Linked DNA regions of Homo sapiens: all the other regions are linked to region 4. The links come from fine-mapping of genetic effects on gene expression. A gene starts in region 4. Each other region holds a variant in brackets. All regions are shown on one strand. Distances are from middle to middle.

Region 1 (8,106 bases), 200 kb before region 4:
TGTAATCCCAGCTACTCAAGAGGGTGAGGCAGAGAATTGCTTGAACTTGGGAGGTGGAGGTTGCAGTGAGCTGAGATGGTGCCACTGCACTCCAGCCTGGGTGATAGAGAGTGAGACTCTGTCTCAAAAAAAAAAAAAAAAAAAAAGAGTGATTAATTAAAGAACTGACAAGCAGTGACCAAGGGTCAGTTTGAAATTAGGCAATATGAGTAGAGCTCTGTGCCTTTCTCTGCAGCTTAAAGTCAAAAGCAAACTAAGTAGATTGTCAGGGATATTCAGTATGGAGGAGGGCAATGAAGGCTAGAATGGTGTCCTTTCTCTGAAAGGAGTAAAATCCTACAACTATGGCAGGAGACATCTTGGAGACTTAACGTGATGTGGTATTTTTGTCTTAGAGCAAATGCCATTGTTTCCTGACGGATTTCTGTGGTAGTTGGATCTTTGATTTCAAACCCAATATAAAGTTTCCTTAATAAATGCAAAGTATAGCCTATGATTCTATGTATTTTTCTGTATCTCAATATCTAGCTCCTTATTTATCCTCTAGTTACCATTTCTTTTTTTATCTTTATATGCATGTTGTTCCCTCTTGTCCATCTGGCAAACTCTTATCTTTCTTTGCTTTTTTTTTTTTTTTAAGACGGAGTCTCACTCTGTCACCCAGGCTGGGATGCCGTGGCATGATCTCGGCTCACTGCAACCTCTGCCTCCCAGGTTCAAGCAACTCTCCCGTCTCAGCGCCCTGAGTCGCTGGGATTACGGGTGCCTGCCACCACGCCCGGCTAATTTTTTTTTTGTATTTTTAGTAGAGACGGGGTTTCACCATGTCGGCCAGTCTGGTCTTGTACTCCTGACCTCAAGTGATCTGCCCGCCTCAGCCTCCCAAAGTGCTGGGATTACAGGTGTGAACCACCATGCCCAGCCATTATCTTAATTCAGAGCTTTCCTTCCTCTAGGCAGAATTAGATAGAACTCCTCTTATGCTCTTGGAATTCACAGACTGTCCATAATACTGTAATAGCATTTATCACATTATAATGCAATTGATAATCTGAGCTTCTGGTTTTAGAAATTGTATCATAATTCTATTTTGTACCCCAGTGTTTGGCATGGTGCCAGTCATATAGTAAATGTTCAATAGATATTTGATAAATGAATAAATAAATCAGAAGGATGGTCTCTTAATGCTTTTCAAAACACTAGGGAGTATATACAGAACAGATGTCCCTACTTATGAGGAAAAAGCCCCAGATACTACATTTGGCCATTTTCTTCTTTAAACAGAGTCTACTAGATGACTGGGCAAGTAAGGGAACTCTGGTGGAAGAAATCAATTGCAAAGGTACTTCTTTAGAAAATCTCATCATGGAAATCACAGCACCTGATTCCCAAGGCAAGACAGGTGAGTACAGGCTCTTCAAAATATAGTGAATAAAAATTGCTCTTTGCTTTTGGCCTTTGGAGATGCCTCCTTATATAATTAAAGTGAAAATCAAGGTTGGATATGAAAACAAAGGGCATGCCCAAAGCAGTCTTCCCCTGCAACCTGACCTGTCACCCCTTTTGCTATATAACATTGCTCCATTTTGCAAAATTCCTTCCCATGATGGAAAAAGTAAATGAACTAGTTGTCCCACTTAGAACTATCAAATGAACACTGAATAATTAAAATGAGATTTTCATCTTGAGAATTTCCCTTTTTTGAATGTGTAAATGGGATGGGTAAGCATCATCTTTAAACTTGGGCACTGGCCAGCCACGAAGTCAGAAGATCAAAACCAGCCTGGCCAACATGGTGAAACCCCATCTCTACTAAAAATACAAAAATTAGGCCAGGTGCGGCAGCTCACACCTGTAATCCCAGCACTTTGGGAGGCCAAGGCAGGCGGATCACGAAGTCAGGAGATTGAGACCATCCTGGCTAACACGGTGAAACCCCATCTCTACTAAAAATACAAAAAATTAGCCAGGCATGGTGGCGGGTGCCTGTAGTCCCAGCTACTCAGGAGGCTGAGGCAGGAGAATGGTGCGGAGCTTGCAGTGAGCCGAGATCACGCCACTGCACTCCAACTTGGGCAACAGACAGAGCGAGACTCTGTCTCAAAAAAAAAAAAAAATACAAACATTAGCCGGGCATGGTGGCACGCACCTATAGTCCCAGCTACTCGGGAGTCTGAAACAGGAGAATAGCTTGAACCTGGTAGGTGGAGGTTTCATTGAGCCACGACAGTGCATGCACTCCAGCCTGGGCAACAGACAGAGTGAGACTCCATCTCAGGAAAAAAAAAAAAAAAAAAAAAAAAAAAAGTTGGGAAAGCCTGGGTAGGTATGATTGTGATATCCAGGAAGAAGCAAGGTATTTAGAAGTCAGTGTTGGGCCAGGCATGGTGGCTCATGCCTGTAATCTCAGCACTTTGGGAGGCCTAGGTGGGCTGATCACTTGAGGTCGGGAGTTCAAGACCAGCCTGGCCAAAATGGTGAAACCTTGTCTCTACTAAAAATATAAAAATTAGCCAGGCCTGGTGGCTTGTGCCTGTAATCCCAGCTATTTGGGAGTCTGAGGCAAGAGAATGGCTTGAACCCGGGAGGCAGAGGTTGCAGTGAGCCAAGATCGTGCCACTGTATTCCAGCCTGGGCGACGGACGGAGACCCCATCTCAAAAAAAAAAAAAAATCAGTACTTCAAAGGGGGTACAAAGATTGTGCCCAGATGTGTATATAATCTTTCACTGCAAATTAAGTCTTTGAAGCAAAATCTAATATGAAGGCCAGGCACAGTGGCTCACGCCTGTAATCCCAGCACTTTGGGAGGCCAAAGGAGGTGGAACACTTGAGGCCAGGAGTTCAAGACCAGCCTGGCCAACATGGTGAAACCCCATCTCTACTAAAAATACAAAAATTAGCCAGGCATGGTGGCTTGCGCCTGTAATCCTAGCTACTCAGGAGGCTGATGTGGGAGAACTGCTTGAACCCGGGAGGCAGAGGTTGCAGTGAGCCAAGATTGCGCCACTGCACTCCAGCCTGTGCGACAGGGCGAGACTCTGTCTAAAAAAAAATAAATAAATAAACAAAATCTCATGTGAGTTCCCAGTCACTTGCTCGTTGTTAATTGAGATCACATAAGTTTTATTACTAGTCTGTGATAGTGCACTCCTATAGTCACTTAACGAGTAAAGGAAAAATTTATTTGCTTTCTGAAAATGTGTACTTTTCTATAGTATTCTAAAGTTAAAAGATATTTTGGAACTATCCACAAGTGACATTTCAGGGAATTGGTGATATATCAACCTCTACGTTCAGTGACTTATTCGTGTGACTAAATCAGAGTCAGCAAACTTTTTCTATAAAGGGCCAGATAGTAACTATTTTAGGTTTGCAGGGTATATGGTCTCTGTCACAGTCATATACCTCTGCCATTGTAACAAAAACAGCCAAAGA[C/G]AATACATTAATAGAAATGAGTGGTTGTGACTGTATTCCAGTAAAACTTTGTTGAAACAAAGGGCCAGATTTGACTGATGAGCTGTAGTTTACTGACTCCTAGACTAGATCATTTTTTTAAAAAAAAACCAGAAATCTCATATAGAACAGAAATCTCATATAGAACCCTACTACGTAAAACAAAACATTTTGTTGGCTGCCGGGCGCAGTGGCTCACGCCTGTAATCCCAGCACTTTGGGAGGCCGAGACGGGTGGATCATGAGGTCAGGTGATCGAGACCATCCTGGCTAACACAGTGAAACCTCGTCTCTACTAAAAATACAAAAAGTTAGCCAGGTGTGGTGGCGGGTGCCTGTAGTCCCAGCTACTCGGGAGGCTGAGGCAGGAGAATGGCATGAACCCGGGAGGCAGAGCTTGCAGTGAGCTGAGATCGCACCACTGCACTCCAGCCTGGGTGACAGAGCGAGACTCCATCTCAAAAATAAATAAATAAATAAATAATAAAAATTAAAAGAAACCATTTTGTTGGTGTAAGTTTCCCTTATATGTTATTTTATAGCATTTATCTGTTATGAAATCCATCAGTAAGAATATTGAGACTAACTTAACGAATATAAAAATTTGAAAAGGAAGATTATTGGATGACAGCTTCACCATCTAATTTCTTTCTTTCTTTTTTTTTTTCCTGAGACGGAGTCTCGCTCTGTTGCCCAGGCTGGAGTGCAGTGGCACGATCTCGGCTCACTGCAAGCTCCATCTCCCAGGTTCATGCCATTCTCCTGCCTCAGCCTCCCAAGTAGCTGGGACTACAGGCACCTGCCACCACGCCTGGCTAATTTTTTGTATTTTTAGTAGAGACAGGGTTTCACTGTGTTAGCCAGGATGGTCTCAATCTCCTGACCTTGTGATCCACCTGCCTTGGCCTCCCAAAGTGCTGGGATTACAGGTGTGAGCCACCAGGCCCAGCCTATCTAATTTATTTCTAAATTTTGTTTGGTTTCATTGTATCCAGAAAATATGGTTCACACAGATTAAGTAACTGCAAATGATGACAAATGTTTTTGAAAGTTGACTTCACAATGTCAGAACAGGCTTTGATTGAATTGAGCTAGAAACTTGAAAGTGATGTAATAAGAAATTATTGTTTCAAAGTTAAATCACTAAGAATATTTAATGAGGGCTTTTACACATAGAAAACACTTAAGACTGACATTGAGGACAAAAACTGTCCAACTGACTTGAAGTGTTAAGAATTCTATTATTACACAATTCTGCCACAATGAGAACTGTGTAGATGTACAGAGAGCAAGTCGTGTTATATTTTTGGTCGTGTTATTTAATGTATTACACATGTGCTATAGATGTTTTTCTTTGTATAGTATACATGAGTGGACATGGACAGGTTTGAATATCATAAATTGCTGGTAAAGAGCTACCACCTTTCCAATCAGGGACACTCAAAAATAACTTAAAATAGATGCTTAGATGTGTCAGGAGCTGCTTTACTTTCCCCAGAAAAGCAGCATAATTGGTTTTATCTGGTGGGTTAAGGTGTAGAATTCAGCATAATTGAACATGCATGTTTTATTATCATTTCTAAGTACTTAGAAATTTATGTGAATATTACATTTAAACCAAACATTAAACACAATCCCTAAAGCACGTTTTTAGGGTGTTTTGAAAATCAGTTTGAAAATTACTATCTTGAGTGCTCTCAAAGTTCTCCTCCAACTCTGAAAAACCATGTATATTTCAGTTCCTTACATTTATCTAGCTCCGTTTCATAAAGTACTTTGATATACATTCGCTCATGATCTCTTCCCAGTTACCCCATGAGAGTTAACAGGATAGGTTGTATTATCTTTAAATCCTGCAGAATAAACTGTGTTTGTAGATTAAGGCTCACATACTGAGTTAGTGACAACCTTGGTTAGTACCGTCTTCTCCCACCTACTAGTCCAGTTTCTTTTTTTGCATCACCACACTGCAATGGAATGTTATTTTTCTATTTTGTATTTTTTAATCGAAAATATAATAACATTAACATTTAAAAGTTTTATAATCACCACCCTAATTCAGCTAATTTTTTTCCTTCCTTTTAGAGACAGGGTCTCGCTCTGTCACCCAGGCTGGAGTACGGTAGTGTGATCATGGCTCTCTGTAGCTTTGACCTCCTAGGCCCACGCAATCAGCCCACCTCAAGCTCCTGAGTAGCTAGGACCACAAATGTGCACTGTCATGCCTGACTAATTTTTTTTTTTTTTAATATTTTTTTGTAGAGACAGGGTCTCGTGTTGCCTAGGCTGGTCTTAAACTTCCACCCTCCCAAAGTGCTGGGATTACAGGCGTGAGCCATTACACCTGGCCCACAACTATTTTGTTTTTGTTGTTGTTTTGAGATGGAGTCTTGCTCTGTCGCCCAGACTGGAGTGCGGTGGCACCATCTTGGCTCACTGCAACCTCTGCCTCCCGGGTTCAATCGATTCTCCTGCCTCAGCCTCCCCAGTAGCTGAGACTACAGGCGTCCGCTGCCACACCCAGCTAATTTTTTGCATTTTAATAGAGATGGGGTTTCACCGTATTGCCCAGGCTGGTCTCGAACCTCCTGAGCTCAGGCAATCCACCCACCTCAGCCTCCCAAAGTGCTAGGATTACAGGTGTGAGCCACCGCGCCCGGCCAACTATTTTGTAATATAACCTTGCACATGACTTTTTGTACAGTGAAGTCAGTGCATATGAGAGTTTTCTGTCCTTTTAAAGTATCATTATGAATATTTTTCAGATTTCTGTATAATATTTATCATTACCTCACCTGATTTTTACCTATCTTGGGAAACTTCTGAAATATAAGGAATCAGTTTGGGGAGAATGTATGTGAAATTATGGTGATTAGAAACAGAACCAAAGGCCCAAAGCACAATTTATAAGAATGTTGATGAGCCAGATTTATTGGCACTTAGGATTTCTGTTTTTTCTTGGGGAAAGGTGAGCAAGAAGAGGTTATGAAAGAAAAGGCAAATAATCTTCCTTTAAAAACAATATAAGAAGGGCTCATTTTAATGTCTTTATTAGAAGAAGGCTGCTTTTTAGGCCAGGCACGGTGACTCATGCCTATAATCCCAGCACTTTGGGAGGCCGAGGCAGGCAGATCACCTGAGGTCGGGAGTTTGAGACCAGCCTGACCAACATAGTGAAACCCCGTCTCTACTAAAAATACAAAAATTAGCCGGGCCTGGTGGCAGGCGCCTGTAATCCCAGCTGTTTGAGAGGCTGAGATGGGAGAATTGCTTGAACCTGGGAAGTGGAAGTTGCAGTGAGCCGAGATCATGCCACCGCACTTCAGTCTGGGCAACAGAGTGAGACTCTGTCTCAAAAAAGAAAAAAAAAAAGGCTGCTTTTTCTGTCCTTAATGGTATTTTCATTTTTATTATATTGAAAGATATTGATATAAAAGGTGAAACTTTCTGGCTTTATTATAAAAGCTTATTCCAAAATATGGCAAGTACCATTCTAGACTGAATAATTTTACCAGTACTTGCTTCACAAAATTAGGGCGGCATCCAGAGAATTCAAGTTGGAGATTTAATAAAAAGGGAATACGAATTTCCTCTAGAAGGGATTAAGAATCATTCCTGCTAAGAACCTTGAGTGACGTTTTGTTGCCTGGCAGCTAAAATAATTTGTCTCTTTCCATGAGTATGTTGTCTTGTGCTGTGTTAACTTCCTGATACCTAAGCTTAAAGTGAGGGCCAAAGGACAAATTCAGTGCCTATATGTATTCCTAACACGTTGGTCTTGCCCTGTTTGTCTCCCTGTCCTTCTGCTCAGGTTCCATACTGCCCTCTGTAGGAAGCTCTGTAGGCAGTGTAAACGGATACCACACCTGCAAAGGTGAGAATGCCATTTCAACAGTGCTTCTTTGTTGGATGTGTTAGGACAGTGTCTATGTTTGCATCTGTGTATGTTGCAATATGTGGTGGAAGAACTGCTGCCAGAATGGGTGTGAGGATAAAAATCTGGGGAGAAGCAACTGTGGTTTGCTGGCTATAGACCATAAACAGGTTGGCAGCCCCTGAAGCTAAAGGTATTGTAGAAATACAATAGATTGGATCACTAGATAAGGCAAATAGGGAAGGAACTCAAAGAAAATATATGTTAATCTTTGAATTATAAAGAAGTTATACTAGAGATAATCTAGTCTAGCTCTCAGCCTCCCAGCTAGGTGACTTCTCTGTAGTTTGGAGAAGAAGGAATGGAAGAATGCTCCAAGTCCCTTAATCCCAATAGTAAACTAAGGTTAATTTCTTACTTTGCTCCCTTCACTTTTGTTGTTCCCATGTTTAGCATTTTAAGGTATACATCTGAGTATATAATGCCAAAACCAGAAAGCAGATTAATGAGAATGCTTTTGTTTTGTGTATATAAATGGGAACTTTTGTATGATTTAGCAGGAAGATAATCTCTAATTCACTAGAAGGAGTAAGAGAGATGCAAGTAATTTAGGAGTGAGGAGTCAAGGAGCATACTCGAAGAGCTGTCTCCAATCTGATTTCTGTTTCTATGATACTAGATCTGACGGAGATCCAGTGTGACATGTCAGATGTAAACTTGAAGTATGAGAAACTAGGGGGAGTACTTCATGAACGCCAGGAAAGCCTTCAGGCTATC
Region 2 (8,106 bases), 160 kb before region 4:
AAAGCTAAGCAGTGATGTGCAGAAGTCAGCACCTGTGCCACCCAGAAGGCGGCCAAATGCAGAACGCAAAGACAATGTTAACAGGAGATCGTGGAAGTCCTTCATGCCACCCAACTTCCCAGAATTTGCAGAGAGGATAGAAGCTTCTCTCAGTGAGGTTTCAGAAGCTGGTGCTTCAAATCCTTCCTTGCAAGAGAAGAAGGAGTCCAGTTCTGCATTAACAGAAAGTTCTGGTCATTTGGACCACAGGGAACCTCAGTCAGAGTCAGTAACTCTGGAACATGTGTCCAAATCCATAGGTATTCCAGAGGTGCAAGATTTTAAAAACTTAAGTGGAGACTGCCAGGACTTTAGATTTCAGCAGCACAGTGCAAACCCTCCTCATGAATTCCAGCCTGTAGAATCAGAAGCTGTAGCAACAAGTGGTAACACAGATGTAATGCAGGAATCCAGATTCTCAAGTGCAACCTGGCCGAGGGCCACAAAAAGTTTAGCTAAGGGAGGCTTCAGTGAGAAGCAGCACCCCCTTGGGGACACAGCCTGCACTGTGGAAATGCCACCTCTCTCCCCTTGCCTGAGTGAAGAGCTGTTAGATCCAGAATTGCATGTTCTCATAACCCCCAGCCTGAGAGAGAAAACAGAGTCTGAGCTAAAGTTTGAGGAGGATGAGCGATGGATTATGATGGAGGCTGAGGGAGAGTGGGAGGAAGAGAAACTGTCAGACAGGGAAAAGACTTTTCTGATGGCAGATGAGAAGAACAGCCTGGCAGATATTTTTGAAGAAAGAGAACAAGCAAACACAGCAGTGGTGGAGGATGGATCCGATTGCTTAGCTGCTGTCTTGAGGACTTTTGGCCACCTATCTCTTGGTCAGATTTGTTGCCCTGATGACCCACAGCCAGCCAAGGACCAGTTGGCTACTGTTCCCAAGGATATACCCCTGGATTGCGATTGTGTTCTTACAGGTGAGGATATTCTCGGTGAGGTGGCAAACAGAACTGCTCAGGGGTTAGAGGGACTTGTTTCAGATTCAGCATGTACTGTGGGTACTATTGATGCAGAACAGCTCTCTGACACAGACTCAGTGCAGATGTTTCTTGAACTTGAAAAGGAGTGTTTATGTGAAGAAGGAGTAACTCCTCTAGTTGAGCTACAGAATCAAATCTCTTCTGAAGGGCTGGCTGCATCCCAGGATGCAGAAAATTTACTCGTAATTAGTCATTTTTCAGGGGCTGCCTTAGAAAAGGAACAGCATTTAGGCCTTTTACATGTAAGGGCAAAAGATTATGATACTAGATTGGATTGTGGATATTTTAATACCCTGGATTCTTCTCAGGTGCCTAATGCTGTGGAACTTATTGCCCACGTTGATATCATGAGAGACACTTCCACTGTTAGCAAGGAGGAATGTGAAAAAGTGCCTTTTAGCCCCAGGACTGCAGAATTTAAGTCCAGACAGCCAGCTGATCTGGATTCACTGGAAAAGCTGGACCCAGGAGGACTGCTGAACTCTGATCACAGGGTTTCTCATGAAGAAAAATTATCAGGCTTCATTGCTTCTGAGCTGGCCAAAGACAATGGCAGTTTGTCCCAGGGAGACTGCAGTCAAACTGAGGGGAATGGTGAGGAGTGCATTGAGAGGGTCACCTTCAGTTTTGCTTTTAATCATGAACTAACAGATGTTACCTCAGGACCTGAAGTAGAGGTGTTATATGAATCAAATTTACTAACAGATGAAATTCATTTGGAAAGTGGGAATGTAACTGTTAATCAAGAAAATAACAGTCTGACATCAATGGGAAATGTGGTCACTTGTGAATTGTCTGTGGAGAAAGTTTGTGATGAGGATGGTGAGGCAAAAGAGCTGGATTATCAAGCCACACTTTTGGAGGATCAAGCTCCAGCACATTTCCACAGAAACTTCCCAGAGCAGGTCTTCCAGGATCTCCAGAGGAAGTCCCCAGAGTCAGAGATTCTGAGTCTGCACCTGCTGGTTGAAGAACTGAGACTTAATCCAGATGGAGTGGAAACTGTGAATGATACAAAGCCTGAGCTGAATGTGGCATCATCAGAGGGAGGGGAGATGGAAAGGAGAGATTCAGATTCATTCCTAAATATTTTTCCAGAGAAACAAGTTACCAAGGCTGGTAATACTGAACCAGTTTTAGAGGAATGGATACCCGTCCTCCAGAGACCTTCCCGGACTGCTGCAGTACCCACTGTCAAAGATGCCCTAGATGCTGCACTGCCCAGCCCAGAGGAGGGTACCTCAATTGCTGCAGTGCCTGCCCCAGAGGGAACTGCTGTAGTTGCTGCTTTAGTGCCCTTTCCACATGAGGACATCCTAGTTGCTTCAATAGTCTCCTTAGAGGAGGAGGATGTCACAGCTGCTGCAGTATCAGCCCCAGAGAGGGCTACTGTCCCAGCTGTTACAGTATCTGTCCCTGAAGGGACTGCTGCAGTTGCTGCAGTGTCCTCCCCAGAGGAGACTGCTCCAGCTGTTGCAGCAGCCATCACACAGGAGGGTATGTCAGCTGTCGCAGGGTTCTCCCCAGAGTGGGCTGCTTTAGCTATTACAGTACCCATCACAGAGGAGGATGGTACACCAGAAGGGCCTGTCACCCCAGCTACCACAGTGCATGCTCCAGAGGAGCCTGATACTGCAGCTGTCAGAGTGTCCACCCCAGAGGAGCCCGCCTCCCCAGCTGCTGCAGTGCCCACCCCAGAGGAGCCCACCTCCCCAGCTGCTGCAGTGCCCACCCCAGAGGAGCCCACCTCCCCAGCTGCTGCAGTGCCCCCCCCAGAGGAGCCCACCTCCCCAGCTGCTGCAGTGCCCACCCCAGAGGAGCCCACCTCCCCAGCTGCTGCAGTGCCCACCCCAGAGGAGCCCACCTCCCCAGCTGCTGCAGTGCCCACCCCAGAGGAGCCCACCTCCCCAGCTGCTGCAGTGCCCACCCCAGAGGAGCCCACCTCCCCAGCTGCTGCAGTGCCCACCCCAGAGGAGCCCACCTCCCCAGCTGCTGCAGTGCCCACCCCAGAGGAGCCCGCCTCCCCAGCTGCTGCAGTGCCCACCCCAGAGGAGCCCGCCTCCCCAGCTGCTGCAGTGCCCACCCCAGAGGAGCCTGCCTTCCCAGCTCCTGCAGTGCCCACCCCAGAGGAATCCGCCTCCGCAGCTGTTGCAGTGCCCACCCCCGAGGAATCTGCCTCCCCAGCTGCTGCAGTGCCCACCCCAGCAGAATCTGCCTCCTTTGCAGCTGTGGTGGCCACCCTGGAGGAACCCACTTCCCCGGCAGCTTCAGTGCCCACCCCTGCAGCTATGGTGGCCACCCTAGAGGAATTCACTTCCCCGGCAGCTTCAGTGCCCACCTCTGAGGAGCCTGCCTCCCTAGCAGCTGCAGTGTCCAACCCAGAGGAGCCCACCTCCCCAGCAGCAGCAGTGCCCACCCTAGAGGAACCCACCTCCTCAGCAGCTGCAGTGCTCACCCCAGAGGAACTCAGTTCCCCAGCAGCTTCAGTGCCCACCCCCGAGGAGCCTGCCTCCCCAGCAGCTGCAGTGTCCAACCTAGAGGAGCCCGCCTCCCCAGCAGCAGCAGTGCCCACCCCAGAGGTGGCTGCCATCCCTGCTGCTTCAGTGCCCACCCCAGAGGTGCCTGCCATCCCAGCTGCTGCAGTGCCTCCTATGGAGGAAGTTTCCCCCATTGGTGTGCCCTTCCTGGGAGTTTCTGCCCACACTGACTCAGTGCCTATTTCAGAAGAAGGAACACCTGTTCTAGAGGAGGCTTCCTCCACTGGAATGTGGATCAAGGAGGACCTTGATTCCCTAGTATTTGGCATAAAAGAGGTGACCAGCACAGTGCTACATGGGAAAGTGCCTCTGGCTGCAACCGCTGGATTAAATTCAGATGAGGTAATTGTCCATTTTGATTCTGGGAAGGGTCTAAAGAGTAAAGTGAGATTTGCAGGGCTGACCTGGTGGTGATGAGAAATGGCACAGATAGTTCTTTTGTTCTTTTTGGGTCTCCCGGGCTTATAGTTTGTAGTCTTTCTGTTCAGTTTTTGGGGAAAATATACTTTAATTTTGTCTGGTGAAAGACTTTATAATTTCATGCTTCGTTTTTTATTCAGATAAGCCAATCCCACGGAAAACAGGGATATAAACAGTTGTTGATTTACATTTTTAAAAAGATTATTAGCAGGAAAGGGTCATTCTGTTTTTGAATTATACAGTGAGCATGTTCTTGCCTAAACCAAGAGACAGTTTATTCATTGGTGGTGTCAACATTTAGGTAGAGGCCAGAGTGTGAGCTTTGGAATGAGACCTGGGGTGCTTCCTAACCACTCTGGGAAAATTAGTTAGCTATTCTTGAGTTTCCTGTTTCTTCATTTGTTAAGGCATAACTCTGTGAGGATAAAATGAGATACATTTAAGGTACCAAGCGTATAAGATTACCAATCACTGGCCATATCCTCCCCATTCTTTTCAAATAGGTATGTTGGTTGGTTGAAAGAATTTACCAAAGTAGATTGGAGAGAAGCAATAAAGCTAAATGATTAAGAACTTTTAAATGCAAATATGTGTTTCTGAAAACCAGAGCTAGGCATAATGTTTATGAAAAATAGAGATATTTTAGTCATCTTTGTCAAACTGCCTTTGTGTCCTTAAGCAAGTCATTTTCCTTTCCAGGACCTCATTTCTTCATTATAAAACAAGAAAATTGGGCTAAATGTCCTCTTGGGTCTCTCTTGGCTCTAAGATTCTTTTTATTTTTTTTTTTTAGATGGAGTCTGGCTCTGTCAGTCAGGCTGGAGTGCTAGAGTGCAGTGGTGCGATCTCAGCTCACTGCAAGCTCCACCTCCCGGGTTCACGCCATTCTCCTGCCTCAGCCTCCCGAGTAGCTGGGACTACAGGCGCCCGCCACTACGCCCGGCAATTTTTTGTATATATATATATATAATTTTTTTTTTTTTTTTTTAGTAGAGACGGG[T/C]TTCACTGTGTTAGCCAGGATGGTCTCAATCTCCTGACCTCATGATCTGCCCGCCTCGGCCTCCCAGAGTGCTGGGATTACAGGCGTGAGCCACCGCGCCCAGCCGGCTCTAAGATTCTTAATGTTAGAGAACCGAATGTGTTAGGAAACAGTTGGAAACGATGTTCCACATCCTTGAGCACTCCTAGTCCAAGGAATTTGAGATCAGCAGCTTTCCACAGTTAATTACCCAGGTTTGATTTGGTCAGTGGTAAAGAGTGCAGGAGTTAGAGGTTTAATCTGAACACAAGAGATGACTGAGTGAGAAGATTGTTTTGATTTTACTGCGCCCCTAGGACTCAAAATAGTGCCTTCTTCATAGCAGGCATTTGCTGTTGACTGACTGACTGAATGCATGAATATCAATTTCCTAGACTATGGATGGATGCTACAAGAAAGATGGGTTTTCTCATTCACCTCACTGCAGAGCCTTTCAGGGCAGCCTTAAGTCAGCTAGAGCACCAGCTAAACATGCAGGTCCTGACAACAAAATCATTTTGATTGCATGCCATAAACTCTTTGATTAAGAGGATTGATTAAGATAATCTGGCCTTGCTGAGTGGTGGTGGTTTTACCTTGAGCTTTACCAGTTATTTTGTCAGGTAGCATTCCATTAAATTAGGATGCATCATCTTTGAGACTGATGGATTTTTGATTCATTTTTCCGAGTTTTATTGAATTTGGAATGACACCGAGATCCCAATAGCCTGTACAAAGTGAAGACAGTAGGTCAACAACAGAGCCATTCTTGATAATACAGAATATTTCACACCAGGCACAGTGGCTCACACCTCTAATCCCAACATTTGGGAAGCCAAGGGAAGAGGATTGCTTGAGGCCAGGAGTTCGAGAACAGCCTAGGCAACATAGTAAGACCCCATCTCTGAGAAAATAAAAAGAAAAAAAAAAAAACAGAATATCTCCAGTATAAAGCTTATATAGCAGTAATCATGAAATATAAGGATTAAATTTATAGTGAGGCAATCAAATCTGCATAAAGGGGAAAAAGTCATAGAAATCCTGTATCAGTCTCTGGAATCCTTGTTTCCTCATCTGCAAAATGAGTAGATGGCTACATAATCTCTAACTATCCTTCCAGCTACAGGAGGTAATCCTTTTATGAAATATTGCCTGATGTAAATGACAGGAGAAGGAAATGGTAGCCCAGCTGCAAAGTTGTCCATCTTTGAAGTGTGGTTACTTTGTGGAATATCTGGAAGTGAGCAAATGCCTATATCTGTGTACAGGAAAGGATAGATCTGAGCCTCAGCCAGGACTGTTAACCAGCAAGAATGTAGAGAGGCCATTTTGAAAATATTGAAACAAAACAAATCATTATAGAGTTAACATGAGTATACAGGTTTGCTAAATTGGTGAAATATTATTTTAAAAGGTTTTTCCAAGATGAGAGGTTAATTTTTTATTTCTTCCATTCCCTTAGGATTCCAAGAGGCAACTGAACCTGCCATTTTTATATATAAATACTTAGAACTCAACAAGTGATTTAGCATGAACTGAGGTCCTCTATGTCTGTATGTATATGTGCAAGTGCAGACATGGATACATGGTTAAAATAGATATAAACTTTGTAATTGCAATAACAACAGAGTTTGGTAGAACTAAAATGCCAAAAACTCGTTTGCTTTTTCTGTAATGGGATCTGAGGCCTACTGAGACCAATCTCTGGTTATGTAAATTCCCTGCTTATTTATAGACCTCTTCAGTCTTAATCCCAGCCACTGGTTCAAAGGAAGAAAAAAACCTTTTGTATAAAATAAGGGTTCTATAAGATTACAATTTGCCAAGGGAGTCTTTTTAAGCAAAAATTGGAGAGCACCACAATTCCAGTTCAGTGTTTGAACGCTCTGCTGATCGGCAGAATCTTCATTGGTTTTTTGCATTCCCTAACACCGTTTGTGTACAAGGATTCATTCATTCATGGAACAAAAAAAAGTTTTTGTTTTTTTTTTTAGACAGAGTCTCACTCTGTTGCCCAGGCTGGAGTACAGTGGCACAATCTTGGCTCACTGCAGCCTCTACCTCCCGGGTTCAAGCAATTCTCCTGCCCCAGCCTCCGAAGTAGTTGGGATTACAGGAATGTGCCACCACACCCAGTTAATTTTTTTTTTTTTTTTTTTTTTTTTTTTTTTTTTTTGGATTTTTAGTAGAGACAGGGTTTCACTGTGTTGGCCAGGCTGGTCTCGAACTCCTGACCTCAGGTGATCCGCCTGCCTCGGCGTCCCAAAGTGCTGGGATTACAGGCATGAGCCACCACACCCGGCCTGAGTAAATATTATGAGTACCTACTCTGTGCCAGGTACTAGGCTCCTGCAGTAAATAGAATTGACATGGTCCTTGGCCTTGTGGAACTTATACTGAGTGGAGGAGGCAGATATTAAGAAAACCACACATAAATAAATATAAAATAAATACATAGTTAGAAATTTTGGCAAATTCTTTGAATAAAATGATGTCAATGGATTTGAAGACAATAGGGTGGATTGAAGATATATTTTGGAGGTAAAATCAACAAGATCTGATTGTGGCTTCTGTGTTGGGGCTGAGGGAGTTATCAAGGGTGACTTTTAGGTTCTGGTTTGTACAGTGGAGTGGATAGTATAAATTATTGATTTAAGGAAGAGGTAAGGGAAAGTGGGAGACACTGTTTCATTTTTGAACTGTTAGGCTTGGGATGCCTGTGGTTCATTTTTTTGCATGGAGATATTAAAAAAGCAGTTGGATACGTAGCTTTGAAACTCAGAGAGACAAATTGAGAGTCATAAGCATTTATTGTGGTTAGTATTTAAACCCACAGAAATTGATGGAATTGCCTAGGAAGAATATAGAAAGAGAAGAGAGTCCAGGACTGACGTCGTTCTCTCACTCCCACCCCCAAAGATCATTTAGAGATCTAGAAGAGGAGAAAGAAAACAAAGGACAACAGAAAAGAATCAGTCAGGATAAAACTGGAAAAATGCAATAACAAGGCTGGATGCCGTGGCTCATGCCTGTAATCCTAGCACTTTGGAAGGCTCAGGCAGGCAGATCACTTGAGGTCAGGAGTTCAAGACCAGCCTGGCCA
Region 3 (8,106 bases), 220 kb before region 4:
GCTTTTTTTTTTTTTTTTTTTTTTTTTGAGACGGAGTCTCACTCTGTCACCAGGCTGGAGTGCAGTGGCACAATCTCGGCTCACTGCAACCTCTGCCTCCCGGGTTCAAGCCATTCTCCTCCTCAGCTTCCTGAGTAGCTGGGATTACAGGTGCACGCCACCACACCCAGCTAATTTTTGTATTCTTAGTAGAGACGGGGTTTCACCATGTTGGCCAGCATGGTCTCGATCTCTTGGCCTCGTGATCCACCCGCCTTGGCCTCCCAAAGTGCTGGGATTATAGGCGTGAGCCACTGCGCCCAGCTTTTTTTTATTTTTTAAAGACATGAGGCCTCACTTTGCCACCCAGGCTGAAGTGCAGTGGTACGATCATAGCTCACTGTAACAGGTGTGGACTCACCATGCCTCATTAATTTTTTTTTAAGAGACAGTCTTGCTATGTTGTTGCTCAGGCTGGTCTCAAAAACCTAGCTTCAGTGATACTCCTGCATCAGCCTCCTAGTCACTCAGCTTTCTTGAAATGATGTGGGAAGCTGAGGCTATCAGGTTGTTGTTGATACAGGCTAAAACTAGACGATGATCTGTAGTCCTTCTCTAAGTAGTGGCATAAACAGTATAGGTAGTAAGGAACACTGACAACTCCCACTGTCTTCTAGATTCAGGAAGAACATCCCAATATATGTTTCAAAACAAAAACTCACAGCTCTCCTCAAAGAACTCATATTCCATTGGAATAGAAAGAAGGTCTATGTATAAGCACATAGACACAGTACATACAAATAAAAAGTACAAATTACTTATTATTACCCAGAAATACAGTTTAATCTCTAATTATTGAATTAATTTTCCATGGCTTTTCCTAGTAGGGACAGTCTTCATGGACACATGAGTGACATATTTCACAGTTAAGAACTTGCATTTTTTTTTTTTTTGAGATGGAGTCTCAAGTCTGTTGCCAGGCTGGAGTGCAGTGGCAGGGTCTTGGCTCACTGCAATCTCTGCCTCCCAGGTTCAAGCAATTCTCCTGCCTCAGCCTCCCAAGTAGCTGGGATTACAGGCACTTGCCACCATGCCCAGCTAATTTTTGTATTTTCTGTAGAGACAGGGTTTCACCATATTGGCCAGGATGGTCTCAATCTCTTGACCTTGTGATCTGCCAGCCTCGGCCTCCCAAAGTACTGGGATTACAGACATGAGCCACCATGCCTGGCCAAACTTACAATTTTTATATTGTCACATGTATGATTTATTCAGCTACCCTTCCACTAATGTAGATGATTATTAGTTGTCCATTTGTACAGTTTAGCGAAGAGAGTCAGGTTTGAGTTGCAGTTCTGTTCGTTAACAAACTGCATGACCTTAGTCAAGATATATAACGTCTTTTTGGTATTCACTTACTCTTAATATGGGTATTATATTGTCTACCTACATTATAGGTCGTGCCACAAAGCAAATGAGATAATACATGTAAAATCTCTTTGAAAACCATAAAGTCCTATACGTGTCAGTTCAGAGGGGATTAGCATGTGGCATACTGTTTAGAGAGTGACTGATATTGGTGATTTCTGAGCAGTTGGAAAAGTGATCTATTGAGTAGAGGTAGAGACCTCTCCCTACTTCTAGCTTATAGGTAGATGGTCCTTGAAGATTATAAGTACAACTTAAGAGTCAGCATCTAAATTAAAGGGCTATACCTAAAACAAGGGGCTGAACTGAATAAAATGAAGTTAACAGGGAAAAATGTGAGATGCAGCAAAACTGAGAGAGGTGTATGACTTGACAGCAATGTGGGTGAAAAGACCAAGGCTGAATGTAAGCAGACCTCACATGGAGTATGAAGTCCAGTCTTGTATACCTCAAATTATTGTGGATTGCCTACTGATTGTCCTTTGTTTGGGGGGATTTTTTTTTACCAGGCCCGTCACCAAGAATTGCTGTCCCAGCAGCAAAATTTCATTCTGGCCACCCAGTCAGCTCAGGCCTTCTTGGATCAGCATGGCCACAATCTCACACCTGAGGAGCAACAGATGCTGCAACAGAAGCTGGGAGAGCTAAAGGAACAATACTCTACTTCCCTGGCCCAATCAGAGGCAGAACTGAAGCAGGTGCAGACACTTCAGGATGAGTTGCAGAAATTTCTGCAGGATCATAAAGAGTTTGAAAGCTGGTTGGAACGATCCGAGAAAGAGCTGGAGAACATGCATAAGGGAGGCAGCAGCCCCGAGACCCTTCCCTCCCTGCTAAAGCGGCAAGGAAGCTTCTCAGAGGATGTCATTTCCCACAAAGGAGACTTGAGATTTGTGACTATCTCAGGACAGAAAGTCTTGGACATGGAAAACAGTTTTAAGGAAGGCAAAGAACCATCAGAAATTGGAAACTTAGTAAAGGACAAGTTGAAGGATGCAACAGAAAGATACACTGCTCTCCACTCAAAGGTAAGGGGGCAGTTCCTGGCATCCTTGGTGAAACAATCATGGCAGCCTTCACACAATGTAGGTAGTGTCTGGGGCTCAGAATAAGAACTCCAGGACACAGTAGGAGAGCTGATTTATACTTGGACCATGGGCAGAAGGTCTTCACAAACAATGCACAAAATGTAAAATACATAGGTACTAGCCCAAAGGCCTGATAGCTAGCTAATACCTAATACCTAGCACTGGCAGGAGTATATCACACTGATGGTGAAGGTGGAAGTATTCCCCTTCCTGTATCCTGACCAGCAGACTTGGACTCCCAAGAGACATAGCACACAGGGGAAATTTAAACCAATTGCACAGTCTTTATTTCTGTCTTTATTTCACAGAGCATCTAGGGTGAATCCTTACCTTCCTTCCTATCTAAAGAACTTGCTCGCTCTTCTAAAGTTTAGAATCCAGTCAGCTCTTCTTACCTGTCTTATGCCTTCTGCCAACACTTCTAATCCCCAAGAAAGAATACTTTTTGCACTTCTTAACCCCTACCTTTGTCTGCAACCTTATGTTCATTTCTTTGGAAGCTTGTCATACATCTCATTAAATTTTCCTGGGAATGTAAGAAGGTCAAGGTGAATAGTATGGAGCAAACAATGGGGACCCACACTTAGAGATCATTGCTACCCATCTATCCATGGGTTCTGGCAATACCCTTATCTGAAGTTACAGTGAGTTGTCTGTAACAAAGCCAGGCCTCTTTCTTTGGGCAGCTGCTGCCTTTGGCCTGACCTTGCTTAAGTCTGCTTACCTTTCTTTCTCTGGCACAGTGTACACGATTAGGATCTCACCTGAATATGCTGTTAGGCCAGTATCATCAATTCCAAAACAGTGCTGACAGCCTGCAGGCCTGGATGCAGGCTTGTGAGGCCAACGTGGAGAAGCTCCTCTCAGATACTGTTGCCTCTGACCCTGGAGTTCTCCAGGAGCAGCTTGCAACAACAAAGGTAAGTCAGGACACAGGCTGTGTTGTGGTGTCAAGACCTTGTATTCCATGGCGTAAAGTACCCCAAAATAAAGCAAATGCTTACATAAAATAAAGGCAGTGGTTGGGATGCCTTGGACAAGATCTGAGTGCTAAACACTTGCTTCTAATATTTATGGCTATGGTTAAACTTACAATTATTCTGTAAAGCTGTTCAGTAGCTCCGGATTCCTAGAATCATCTTTGATTACTTAGATGTTTTTCTTTTGTTTTTTTCATGGACAAGCAGCAGTTGCAGGAGGAATTGGCTGAGCACCAAGTACCTGTGGAAAAACTCCAAAAAGTAGCTCGTGACATAATGGAAATTGAAGGGGAGCCAGCCCCAGACCACAGGCATGTTCAAGAAACTACAGGTATAAAGCAGCAACAGTATAATAGTACTCCCTTAATTCCTAGTATGTACCTCTATTCTGCAATATGTCACATTGTGTTGTGCAAATATCTGTGGTGCCAGGCTAGAGGCTGAGAATATAAACATGAATAGACATAGATTGTCATCAAAGAGCTTATCCTCTAATGAACTTTATTCTTGCACCATTGAAGGACCTTCACAATCTGGCTTCAGTCCCTTTTCCCCAGACATCTATCTTCTAGCCACATCTACTTTTCTTTCCCAAGTAAACCACTTACATTGTATTACCCCTGAAGTTTTTCCTATTGCTTAGCTGATAACATTTATTGAATGCTTACCAAGCGTGGTGAAATCTTGCCCATGCTTCAAGATGTAGCCAAGAGTATATCATGGTGACTATAGTTAATAACAATATATCGTATACAGGCCGGGCGTGGTGGCTCACATCTGTAATCCCAGCACTTTGGGAGGCCGAGGCGGGCAGATCACGAGGTCAGGAGATCGAGACCATCCTGGCCAAGAAGATGAAACCCCGTCTCTACTAAAAATACAAAACAAACAAACAAACAAAAAAATAGCCAGGCATGGTGGCAGGCGCCTGTAATCCCAGCTACTCTGGAGGCTGAGGCAGGAGAATGGCATCAACCTGGGAGGCGGAGCTTGCAGTGAGCTGAGATCGTGCCACTGCACTCCAGCCTGGGCGACACAGCAAGACTCCGTCTCAAAAAAAAAAAAAAAAAAAAAAAAAAATATATATATATATATATATATA[TATATATATATATATATAC/T]ACACACACACACACACATATGTATATACACACATATATACACACACACACATATATATCGTATACTTGAAAATGGCTGTGAGAGTATATTTTAAGTGTTTTCACCACAAAAAAATGATAAGTATGTGAGGTAATGCATATGTTAAATAGCTTAGCTTAGCCATCCCACTCCTCAAAAGAAACGAAAGATAATTATTCTTCCTTCTGGGCTTCTCGAGGACAGTACTTCTAGTATTAATATACCACTTAAGATTTGATTTTTATCATTAATTGTGATGCATCTTCCTCTGCCTATGCTCTGTTTTAAAGTCTTAAGTTGTAGATGTCAGATAAGATACTTAAGTATCTTTAGTCCTCAGCATCTAGTACAATTTCTGGTTCTTTGTATGCAGTAAATAACTAATGCTTATTGAACTTGGCTCTGATACTAATGCATTTCAAACTTATTCCTTCTATTGGTCTTAATGTCAATTATTATTACAATTACTATGTTCAATGTAGGACTGGGCATGGTGGCTCATGCCTGTAATCCAGGCACTTTAGGAGGCTGAAGTAGGAAGATTGCTTAAGGCCAGGAGTTCAAGACCAGCTTGGGCAACATATTAAGACCACATCCATATAATAATAATAATAATAATAATTTTTATTATTTATTATTTAATAATATTAATAATAAAGTCTTTAAAAGCATAATACAAAAATTGTCTCCACTCTTTCTTTTCATGGCCTGATTTTTCAGATTCCATACTCAGCCACTTCCAAAGCCTCTCCTATAGCCTGGCTGAGCGATCTTCTCTGCTGCAGAAAGCAATTGCCCAATCTCAGAGTGTCCAGGAAAGCCTGGAGAGCCTGTTGCAGTCTATTGGGGAAGTTGAACAAAACCTGGAAGGGAAGCAGGTGTCATCACTCTCATCAGGAGTCATCCAGGAAGCCTTAGCCACAAATATGGTAAGATCTGTGTCCCAAGAGCTAGCATAGAGGGTATGTTTGCTATGTGCCATCATTACATAATGTTGAAAAAGTAACAAGAGGGAACCTAATATCTGTGAATCATCTAATAAGATTTAGAAATGATAACTAATCTATGTAAAGATATTTCTACCCAGTTGAGCTGGAATGAAAGTGGAGATAGCAAAGTCATGTGGTAGAAGGGGTGGAGAACTAAGGTGATGAGATGTGTGGTATTCTGGAGGCTCGGTTGCAGTCCTCCAGTCCCCCTTGTGAGATAGCATATAGTTATTAGTTTGTGGCTCAGATGTCCTGGAATAAGTGAACCAGGAGCTGACAGACGTGTTCTTCATGACAGAAATTGAAGCAGGACATTGCTCGGCAAAAGAGCAGCTTGGAGGCCACCCGTGAGATGGTGACCCGATTCATGGAGACAGCAGACAGTACTACAGCAGCAGTGCTGCAGGGCAAACTGGCAGAGGTGAGCCAGCGGTTCGAACAGCTCTGTCTACAGCAGCAAGAAAAGGAGAGCTCCCTAAAGAAGCTTCTACCCCAGGCAGAGATGTTTGAACACCTCTCTGGTAAGCTGCAGCAGTTCATGGAAAACAAAAGTCGGATGCTGGCCTCTGGAAATCAGCCAGATCAAGATATTACACATTTCTTCCAACAGATCCAGGTGAGGATATATCTGCCATGTTAGCAGAATAAAGGGAAGAGAAGGGCAGGGAGAGAACCAGCATTTGCTGAGCGCATACTACATCAGTCAGTATACTGGAAACTACCTGCATTATCTTTGGGAATTATTACAGTGATCCCGTAAACTAGGTATCATTTGTCCATTTTTTAAGCAACACAGTCAATATTTATTTTTCACTCTTATTACATGTTCAACCCAAATCAGCAGGGCCACTCAGTTCATCATAGTCACTCAAGGGATGCAGATTGATGGAGATTTCATCCTGATATAAGCTTTCATGATTACTGCCTCAGTGGTAAAAGGGCATATTATATTTATTTACATTTTATTAGTCAAAGCACTTTCCACAAAACCACCTATACCTTTCAAGAGGGTGAGGAAATGTAATCTCACCACTTACCTAGAAGGTGCAAAGCTAGAAATATTTGGTAAAAGTATTAACAGCTACCACAGATATATATCCAGAAGTAAAACTGCCAAGTCATAGTATATGCATATATTAATTTAATTCGACTCAGTAGTGGCCAATTTGAGCTCCAGAATGGCTGTACCAGCACACATTCCCACCTGTAGTACTTCAGCATTCCTGTATCTCTGCATTGCTGCCTTCGCTTTATCCAGCTTTCTAACTTTTTCCATATTAAAGTGGAATCTCATTGTTTGGTTTGGTTTGCTCTCCTTTTTGCTTTGAATGATTTCAAACTTACAGAAAAGCAGAAGAAATGGTCCATTACACACCAGCATACTCTTCACCTAGATTCACCAGTTGCTAATTGTTTTCCCTCTCTTATAAAAATATAAAAGAGAGTATCATTATGGGCTTCTATATTTGTTATTACCATTATTCTTTATGATACTTAACGTTTTCCCAAATGTGGTCGGTGGGAGCCTCTTCAAGCTGTCTCCTGTGGCTTTTTGACATGTCTTCCTCAGCATAAGAGCACTTTTGGAACTTAAGATATTTGTGGCACAATAATGTATTTCCTTGTCCCCTATCTGAAATCAGCTATTTATCCAAGGAGTCCCACTTTTAGTGGGGAATGATATTTAGAAACCAAATCTGGACACTAGATGAGCTACTGGAGTGTCACTACTTTTAGGTTCTTTTTAATAGATAGTGTTAGGAAATATATGTGTATGTTTCTTATATCATAAAATCATACTGATAGTCTAGTCTCAACGCAACACCATAGGAATCTTCCTCCTTTCCACATTTGTATCTTCCTTTCCTGTAGGGAGAACCCTAGTTCCCAGCAACTTTAATATATTTACTTATTTGTTTTATTCTACAATAAATATAAGATAGTTTTAGAATTACATTAGTATTTCTACCAATAACAAACCTGCTAAATAAAATTGAAGATTTCTTTGGATTTGTTTTTGTCCTTAGCCTATGACCCACTATGTACTGTGTTCAAAAATTACCTGAATTATTTTTTCTGTAATTTCTTATATAATTAGATTTGTTTCTATTTGTATTCAACTTTAGGACTTTATTTTTCTACCTTTGTTGATTAAACTTATTTTTAAATATGTAAAGCATTAACATAGGTCAAAAGTTAAAACTCTTCAAAAAGTTATACTCAAGGTATAGGAAGTGAATAAGGATATATTCTCATTGTCTTTCCTGTCTCTTCCATCCCATTTTCACCCATCCCCATAGTAACACATTTCAGGTTTATTTTTTTCTATTCCTTTTTACCAAAATGAACATACACACACATTCTTATTCTCCATTCTTCCTTACAAAAAAGAAGGGTATATTACGTAATCCTTTGCTTTTTTACTTAATATGTCTTGGAAATCACTTAATATGGATTCACAGAGATCTTTGTTTTTTAAACCATACTTTCATTGTGTAGAAGA
Region 4 (8,106 bases):
TGTGCCCTTGTTGGATAAAGGGGCCACAAGTAAAGATAATCTAAATGGCCTTAATGACACCAAGATCCAGTGATAATACCTCACATTTGACTAAGCTTTACCACTTAGAAGAGACTTTGCAGACTACCACCCACCATGACTCAGGTGGGACAGCTGAAATTATACATTTTACAAAATGAACAAACTTATGTTTAGGGTAACTAAGCTGTGCAGCTAGCTAGTAATTACGAAACTAATACTAGATTATCTGATTTATTTTTCAGTGAGGTATTGCATCAAAGTTATCAAGTCATTTAGTCTGCAATCCACCTATGGAGACAAGTGACAAAACCTGTAAAGCAAATGATCTGGAAAAAAAAAAAAAGGTGCTATCCCTGAATTCAGAATTCAGTCCAGTTTATTTTCAATTTCTGAGAACAGAAATTGACTTAAACAAAAAAGCATCAGTCATCAAAATGGACACAACTGATCACACATGGAAAAGTTCTCTGTACTATCACAAGGATAAAACCACCATACCTTCTGCCTAAGTAGACAGTGCGCAGATGGCAGGCCCTGCACCCACCTTTTGAAGCCTTAATGGAAGTTCTGTAGAATTCTAGGACTTCAGCTACCCTGGGTGCTCAACCAACTTCCCCATCCAACACCTTGGAATGCTTCCTTAGCTTCCCAACCAAGTCCGTGTGTACACCAGAGACAATTTAAAGAACCAAAGGCTGGGCTGGGTATGGTGGCTCACTCCTGTAATCCCAGCACTTTGGGAGGCCAAGGCGGGTGGATTACCTGAGGTCAGGAGTTCGAGACCAGCCTGACCAACATGGTGAAAACCCCATCTCTACTAAAAATACACAATTAGCTGGGCATGGTGGCGGGTGCCTGTAATCCCAGCTACTCAGGAGACTGAGGCAGGAAAATTGTTTGGACCCAGGAGTCAGAGGTTGCAGTGAGCTGAGATCGCGCCATTGCACTCCAGCCTGGGCAGCAAGAGTGAAACAGTGTCTCAAAACAAACAACAACAAAAAGAACCAAAAGCTAAAAAATAACACCACCTGCCAGCCAAAACACTTCTCATCACTAATCGCAACAAGGATGCCCAGATCTGGTGGCCACTTTTCCTTAAGGCTATGATGGCATCTCCTAACGGTGACATCACCCAGAACCTCCTCCATGAGGGGATTTAGACAGGGTCAGAGCAGTGGAACCTGCTCCTTGCCTCAGGACAACATCTCACTTAAAGGGGGGACAAAATTCCCCAACTCTGCCGCTCCACAAGCTCAACTGTTTCATTAGCCGGGAGAATTTATTTTCACTCATTATTTCCAACAACTTTCCCCACCCCCTTCAGAAGGTGGGCCTCATCTGTGTGGGGGGTAGTTGGGAAAAGGGGAGATGACAAGACCGATCCAAGTCAGGAACAGTCCAGGGAAAGAGGACTTTGCTTGTGATGGCTATCAGAGATAGATAGCTGGGATCGCAAACTATTTCATTAATTAGCAGTAAAGGAGCCCACTTCAACAACAGCTCCTCGTCTATTTCCAGACAGCACTGCACAAGGCAAGCCGGCTTAGTCTGACAAATCTGGCTGCACTTATTTATAGCAGGGAGAAGTCCTGCAGAAGTATGTGTTGGCAGACACACTGACCAATAGCTTCTGCTATCTCTAAGTGACACGACTTTTGTTCAAAAGTCAGTAAGGCAGACAACAGCTAATGTGGTACATTATCCCTTAAAAAGACCACACTCAGCTACCTTTGCGCTCCTATGGCCATGGACAGAACTCAGCTTGGAGCACACTGGATTGACAGTAGCAATACCTAGTCCCTCTCAACATGTCCAATTCTCTGGTCTCAGCCGCAACCTGGGCAGGTAGTAACTCTGGGCCTCAGACAGAAAACAAAGGGGGGACCCCAAAACTAGGGACCTGGAGATGCTTTGCCATAGAATGGCTTGTTTCTCCCAGTAATGATCTCTGCAGTTGTTCCCTTTTAATCTGGAGTCACGTGCAGCCTCTGATCAGGTTTCCTCTGGCCTCCCTCCTGCCACGCCTGCAGCATACCTCTCTCCATGCTCCACGCTAAGGCCACAATCTGAGGTGGCAGAGCACTGTGCTGGGAGTCCTAACTTGGCTTCCAACTTTTTGCATTCGTTCTCCTTCTCAGGAGTCCCATTTTCTTCAGATTAGATGAAATAAAAGGGCTCTGACTAGTGCAAAGCACTGTTACAGCTGAGGTGACAAATGACACCAGATTTTCAAGTGACGCTTCCCTAAACTACCTCCACGACACTCTACAGCACAGAGCCTGGATACCATTTGTCCAGAGTAAAGCACTTCTCCACTCCAGTGGCAAACACACAGACCAAGGAGGTGGCCTGGCACACGCAGCTTTTGTGGCACTAACCTAAGTCTCTGCGAAAGTTTAACGCACAGAAACCTTCCCCCTGCTTCCTGCCTGCCCTGACTGATCCTTTATCAGCACAACATCAGGTAGTCAAGGTTAGTAAAGGTGGCGGAGCGGGCAGGAGCTTTACAATGTAAAACTTTCGCGGGGAATTGTGTTTCAAACGTCCCGCCTTTTTGGCCAGCCTGTGAGGGGCACAAGCAAGGATCTCTAACAGCCCAGCCCCACTGACAAGGACCACACGCAGTGGAATGCCAGTGGCTTCACTCTAATCCTGTTTTACAGTCTCCTTGGTTTCCAACCCCACTACCAGCAACACTAATAAGTAGCCCAAGGTCACCCAGTTAGCAAGTGGTAGAAACAAGATTGAAACTCGAGTCATCTGATGCCAGGTCCGCGTTCTCAATCTCCGCACCCTGCTCCCAGCTTCGGTGGCAACATGCTGTCGTGATGCCGCCCTCCTCGGCAGGAGGGCCCTGCCAGAAGACGACTCCCGGGGTCCTCCGGGCTCCCACGCACGTGTGGGCACAGCTTCTACTCACCGTCGGCCGGCTGCTGGAAGTTGACGTAGGCATAGCCCAGGGAGCGGCGGGTGATCATATCGCGGCAGACCCGGATGGACAGCACAGGCCCCGCGGGGCTGAACTTTTCGTACAGCATGGCCTCGGTGACGTCCGAATGCAGGTCGCCCACGTACAGGGAGGCCATGGGGTAGCTGCTGGCCGCAGCGTTCATCTCCCCGCCCCCCACCACCCCGAGCCCCGCCAGGAGGACTTCTTATCGGGCCCGCCGCAGGACAAAGGGGCGCCTTCGGAGCCCGGGCCCGCGCCGCGGCTCACAGGTGGCACCGGCGCGGCGAGGACGAGCTGGAGTCGGCGGGCTTGGAGACGGGACGGAAACGGGAGGCGGGGGCCGGCTCCCACGGCCGCAGCACCGCAGACAAAAGGCTCTCCGCACAATACGGCCCTCCCCGCGACTTTGCACTTCTCCGCGGTCCTGGTGCGAAGCTCCAAATTTCAAAAAATCAAAGTAGGAAAAAAATTAAACGGGGAATCCCCTTCCGAAGGGTAAAAATCCTTTAAGAGGCGACCGGACGCTGCCCACGGCGGCCTCGGGGACACGCGTTTCTCTATAAATATAGGCCTCGGGCTCCGGCGGTTTAAGATTACAACCGCCGGGGCAGAGGGAAACCAAATCTTTGTGGGCGCCGACTCGGCGAGCCCCGGGCGGGCGGCGAAGGGCAGCACGGACACGTGGTGCGCCGGGGCAGGCGCGGGGCGCGGGGCTCGGGGCCCGAGCGGGGGGAGGGCACGGCGGGCCGGGCGGGCGGCTCACCCCCGGACCGACGGACGGAGACCGACGGACGCCAAGCGCTGCGGCGGCGGGCGCGGGGCAGGCCGGAAGCGTACGAAAGTGACTTCCCCGCGGGTTCTCCGAGGATTCGTTTTTTCTTTTCCTTTTTTTTTTTCAGGATTTTGAAGCGTTTTCAGATTTTTTTTATCTTTTTCTCTTTTTTTCCTCAGGCTGCGAAGCCCGAAAGCGGCGGAGGCGGCAGCGACCCGGGGCGGAGAGAGGCGGCCGAGGGAGCCACCGCTCCATTTATACCCGCCCGCCCCGGGCGCTGCTGGTCGAAGGGCGCCTCGCGACCTGGGCGCAGTCGTGCCCGCCCACTCGGCCCGGGGGCCCGAGGCGGGGCGGCCACGCGAGAGCGACCCGGCGCGGCCGCGCGGCGCTACAGCGACCCCTGGCGCCGGGAGGACCGCCCAGCTCGCGGCTGCGGGAGACCCCAGGGCCCCTTTCTATAACAAATAAATCTTAACACCCTCCCACCCATCACCCGGGAATGGAACCTAGGAGCCATTTAACCTGCACACACGCATGAGGTTTAAAATTAAATGGTATGGGGCTGGGTGCAGTGGCTCACGCCTGTAATCCCAGCACTTTGGGAGGCCGAGGCGGATGGATCATGGAGGTCAGGAGATCGAGACCATCCTGGCTAACGCGGTGAAACCCCGTCTCTACTAAAAATACAAAACATTAGCCGGGCGTGGTGGCATGCGCCTGTAGTCCTAGCTACTCGGGAGGCTGAGCAGGAGAATAGCTTGAACCCGGGAGGCGGAGGTCGCGGTGAGCCAAGATCGTGCCACTGCACTCCATCCAGCCTGGGCAACAGAGTGAGACTCCCTCTCAAAAAAAAAAAAATTAAATGGTATGCCAAATTGTGAAATGAAGGTGACATAAAATAAGTTAAAATAAAATAATAGGTGGTCCAATAGGTAAATGTCTGGGTCCAAATACAATAAAGATTTGAGAAGTTTTCAGGATACCGTTGACCTAGAGGTAGAATCGTCAGGAACTAGAAATGCAAGCAGTATCCATGGGTGATGGGATTTTCTGAAAAGATGAGCACATTTTGGTAAAGCTTCAATGAAACCAAACACAAGCATCCCCTCTATTGACATGCTGGTGGCATTCCCGGACATTTAGTTTGTGTTTAAGGGCACAGAAATACTTTCTGTTCCTATGTTTAAAGTTTCTTCTAGGCTTGGATAATTATAAAAAGACTTTTCATCTGCATGAGAGTCTGGCAGGTCATTTGAAAGTCGTATCACAGGCCAGGCGTGGTGGCTCACGCCTGTAATCCCAGCACTTTGGGAGGCCGAGGCGGGCGGATCACTGAGGTCGAGAGTTCGAGACCAGCATGACCAACATGAAGAAACCCCCGTCTCTCCTAAAAATACAAAAAGTAGCCAGACATGGGGGTGCATGCCTGTAATCCCAGCTACTCAGGCGGCTAAAGCAGAAGAATCGCTTGAACCCGGCAGGCAGAGGTTGTGGTGAGCTGAGATCATGCCATTGCACTCTAGCCTGGGCAACAAGAGCGAAACTCCGTCTCAAAAAAAAAAAAGTCATATCACTTTATAGGACTATGTTATATGGGACTGTCCACACGCATTACAAGATATATAGCATCCCTTCTTCCATAAGTGCCAGGAACCACCTTTGCCATCACTGTGAAAACCAAAAACAGAAATTGCCAAAAGACACAGACATCCCCCTTCAAAAGCACTGATTTAAGTAAATGACTAAAGAAATATGTGTATTTATATATTAATTAATTCAAATAAATGGTTAATCTGAGCCTACTCTATGCCAATGTCAATACAGGGGCTGGAGATACCATGGTGGACCAGAAGTCACTCCCTCTCTCATGGAGTTTATATTCTAATAACTATATTAAATCAAGAAACATTGGCTGGGCACGATGGCTCACACCTGTAATCCCAGCACTTTGGCAGGCTGAGGTGAGCGGATCACCTGAGGTCAGGAGTTCGAGACCAGCCTGGCCAACATGGTGAAACCCCATCTCTACTAAAAATACAAAATTAGCCGGGCATGATGGCACGTGCCTATAGTCCCAGCTACTTGGAAGGCTGAGGCAGGAGAATCGCTGGAACCCAGGAGGCAGCGGTTGCAGTAAGCTGAGATCATGCTACTGCACTCCAGCCTGGGTGACAGAGCGAGACTCCGTCTCAAAAAAAAAGGAACATTTATGGGAGTGCTCCTTCTATAGATTCCCTCCTCAGGAAAGTCTTCCTAGACCTCCTGTGGTCTAAAGTAGCCGTCAACATTGTTAATCACTATCACACCAACTTGTCTTCTTGTCTTCAAGCCTGTTATTCCTACCCAAAATTATGTTGTTCTATATCTGTTTACCTGTTTAGTATCTATCTTTTCCACATTGGTATATAAGCTTCATGAGAACAGGAATCTAGAATAGTGCTTAACATAGCACGTACTAAATGTTCAGTAACTGGCCAGGCAGGTGGCTCACACCTATACTCTCAGTGCTTTGGGAGGCTGAGGCAGGAGGATCGCTTGAGCCCAGACATTTGAAACCAGCCTGGGCAACAGAGTGAGACCCTATCTCTACAAAAAAAAATTTTCTTTTAATTGGCTGGGTGTGGGGACACATGCCTGTGGTCTCAGCTACTTGGGAGTCTGAGGTAGGAGGATCGCTTGAGGCCAGGAGTTGAAGGCTGTAGTGAGCTATGATCATGTCGCTGCACTCCAGGCTGAGCAACAGAGTGAGACTCTGTTACTAAAAAATAAATAGATAAATAAATATTCAATATATGTTTGTGTGTGTGTGTGTGTGTGTGTGTGTGTGTGTGTGTGTTTTCTTGTTTTTTTTGTGGGGGGGGTATGAAATCTTCCTCTGTCACCGAGGCTGGAGTGCAGTGGTGCAGTCTCGGCTCACTGCAACCTCTGCCTCCCAGGTTCAAGCAATTCTCATGCCTCAGCCTCCCAAGTAGCTGGGATTGCAGGCATGCGCCACCACACCTGGCTATTTTTTTTTTTGAAACCAACTCTCGCTCTATTGGCAGGCTGGAGTGCAGTACTGCGATCTAGGCTCACTGCAACTTCCGCCTCCCGGATTCAAGCAATTCTCCTGCCTCAGCCTCCCGAGTAGCTGGGACTACAGGTGCGTGCCACCACACCTGGCTAATTTTTGTATTTTTAGTAGAGATGGGGTTTCACCATGTTGGCCAGGATGGTCTCAATCTCTTGACCTTGTAATCTGCCCGCCTCGGCCTCCCAAAGTGCTGGGATTACAGGGGTGAGCCACCACGCCCAGCCTTTTTTTTTTTTTTTTTTTTTTTGAGACAGAGACTTGCTCTGTCACCCAGGCTGGAGTGCAGTGGCGTGATGTCGGCTCACTGCAACCGCCACCTCCCGGATTCAAGTGATTCTCCTGCCTCAGCCTCCCAAGTAGCTGGAATTACAGGCACCCACCACTATGCCCAGCTACTTTTTGTATTTTCAGTAGAGATGGGATTTCACCATGTTGCCCAGGCTGGTCTCCGACTGCTGACCTCAGGTGATGTATTCGTCTCGGCTTCCCCAAGTGCTGGGATTACAGGCGTGAGCCACACACCCAGCCTGTGTATTTTTTTTTTTGTTTTTTTGTTTTTTTTGAGACTGGGTCTCGCTCTGTTGCCCAGGCTGGAGTGCAGTGGCGCGATCTTGGCTCACTGCAAGCTCTGCCTCCCGGGTTCACGCCATTCTCCTGCCTCAGCCTCCCGAGTAGCTGGGACCACAGGTGCCCACTACCACGCCCGGCTAATTTTTTGTATTTTTTAGTAAAGATGGGGTTTCACTGTGCTAGCCAGGATGGTCTTGATCTCCTGACCTCGTGATCCGCCCACCTTGGCCTCCCAAAGTGCTGGGATTACAGGCATGAGCCACTGCATGTATTTTTTTTTAAGCAACAAAGTCTCACTGTGTTGCCCAGGCTGGAGTGCAGTGGCCTGATCATAGCTCACTGCAGCCTCAAACTCCTGACCTCAAGCGATCCACTTTGGCTTCTTAAAGTGTTGGGATTACAGGCATAAACCACTGCACCTGGCCTAAATATTTGTTAAATAAACAAATGAATACTAGGCACAGATGAGCAAAACCCACACAAGCTCTGACCTCCTGAAGCTTATTGTCTATTGGGGGAGCTTATTACCTATATTACTTTGGGCAAGCTAGTTCACATCTCTGACCCTCAAATTTCTCATCTGAACTATACTAATAAACCTTATTAACAATTAAAAGGGTTATTGTGAGAATAAATGAATACATATAAATACACATAAATTGTTTGGATTAATTTTTTTTTTGAGATGTCTCACTTTGTCGCCCAGGCTGGAATGCAGTG

Alleles and levels. Alleles are on the strand shown, and positions count from the first base shown. SD is a standard deviation of normalised expression in the study named. Not every link is listed here.
For the expression in CD4 T cells of the gene that starts at base 3,973 in region 4, allele T in region 3 goes with a lower level than allele TATATATATATATATATAC (large effect, 0.78 SD a copy in BLUEPRINT).

Evidence for each region. PIP is the estimated chance that this variant, and not a neighbour inherited with it, causes the effect.
Region 1: its variant is fine-mapped to the expression of PABPC4 in whole blood (INTERVAL, PIP 0.98).
Region 2: its variant is fine-mapped to the expression of PABPC4 in whole blood (TOPMed, PIP above 0.99).
Region 3: its variant is fine-mapped to the expression of PABPC4 in CD4 T cells (BLUEPRINT, PIP 0.95).

Annotation. Positions count from the first base shown.
Region 1 is chr1:39,371,195-39,379,300 of GRCh38, forward strand. It overlaps MACF1 (microtubule actin crosslinking factor 1), which reads left to right. Exons shown (of 101, transcript NM_001394062.1): 52 at 1,285-1,402; 53 at 7,267-7,329; 54 at 8,009-8,106. Among named protein-coding and RNA genes, the nearest start is that of BMP8A, 120 kb to the right of the region's middle. The variant C/G (reference allele first, on the strand shown) is at 3,438.
Region 2 is chr1:39,410,571-39,418,676 of GRCh38, forward strand. All of the region lies in intron 58 of MACF1 (microtubule actin crosslinking factor 1), which reads left to right. Among named protein-coding and RNA genes, the nearest start is that of BMP8A, 77 kb to the right of the region's middle. The variant T/C (reference allele first, on the strand shown) is at 4,986.
Region 3 is chr1:39,355,459-39,363,564 of GRCh38, forward strand. It overlaps MACF1 (microtubule actin crosslinking factor 1), which reads left to right. Exons shown (of 101, transcript NM_001394062.1): 45 at 1,917-2,435; 46 at 3,239-3,415; 47 at 3,683-3,806; 48 at 5,335-5,543; 49 at 5,902-6,219. Among named protein-coding and RNA genes, the nearest start is that of BMP8A, 130 kb to the right of the region's middle. RefSeq lists an enhancer at 2,893-4,092. The variant TATATATATATATATATAC/T (reference allele first, on the strand shown) is at 4,578.
Region 4 is chr1:39,572,818-39,580,923 of GRCh38, forward strand. PABPC4 (poly(A) binding protein cytoplasmic 4) reads right to left here and starts at 3,973. Exons shown (of 16, transcript NM_001135653.2): 1 at 2,942-3,973. The coding sequence starts at 3,134. PABPC4-AS1 (PABPC4 antisense RNA 1) reads left to right here. Exons shown (of 4, transcript NR_125979.1): 4 at 264-386. RefSeq lists enhancers at 2,658-2,777, 2,798-2,847, 3,348-3,417 and a silencer at 3,918-4,227.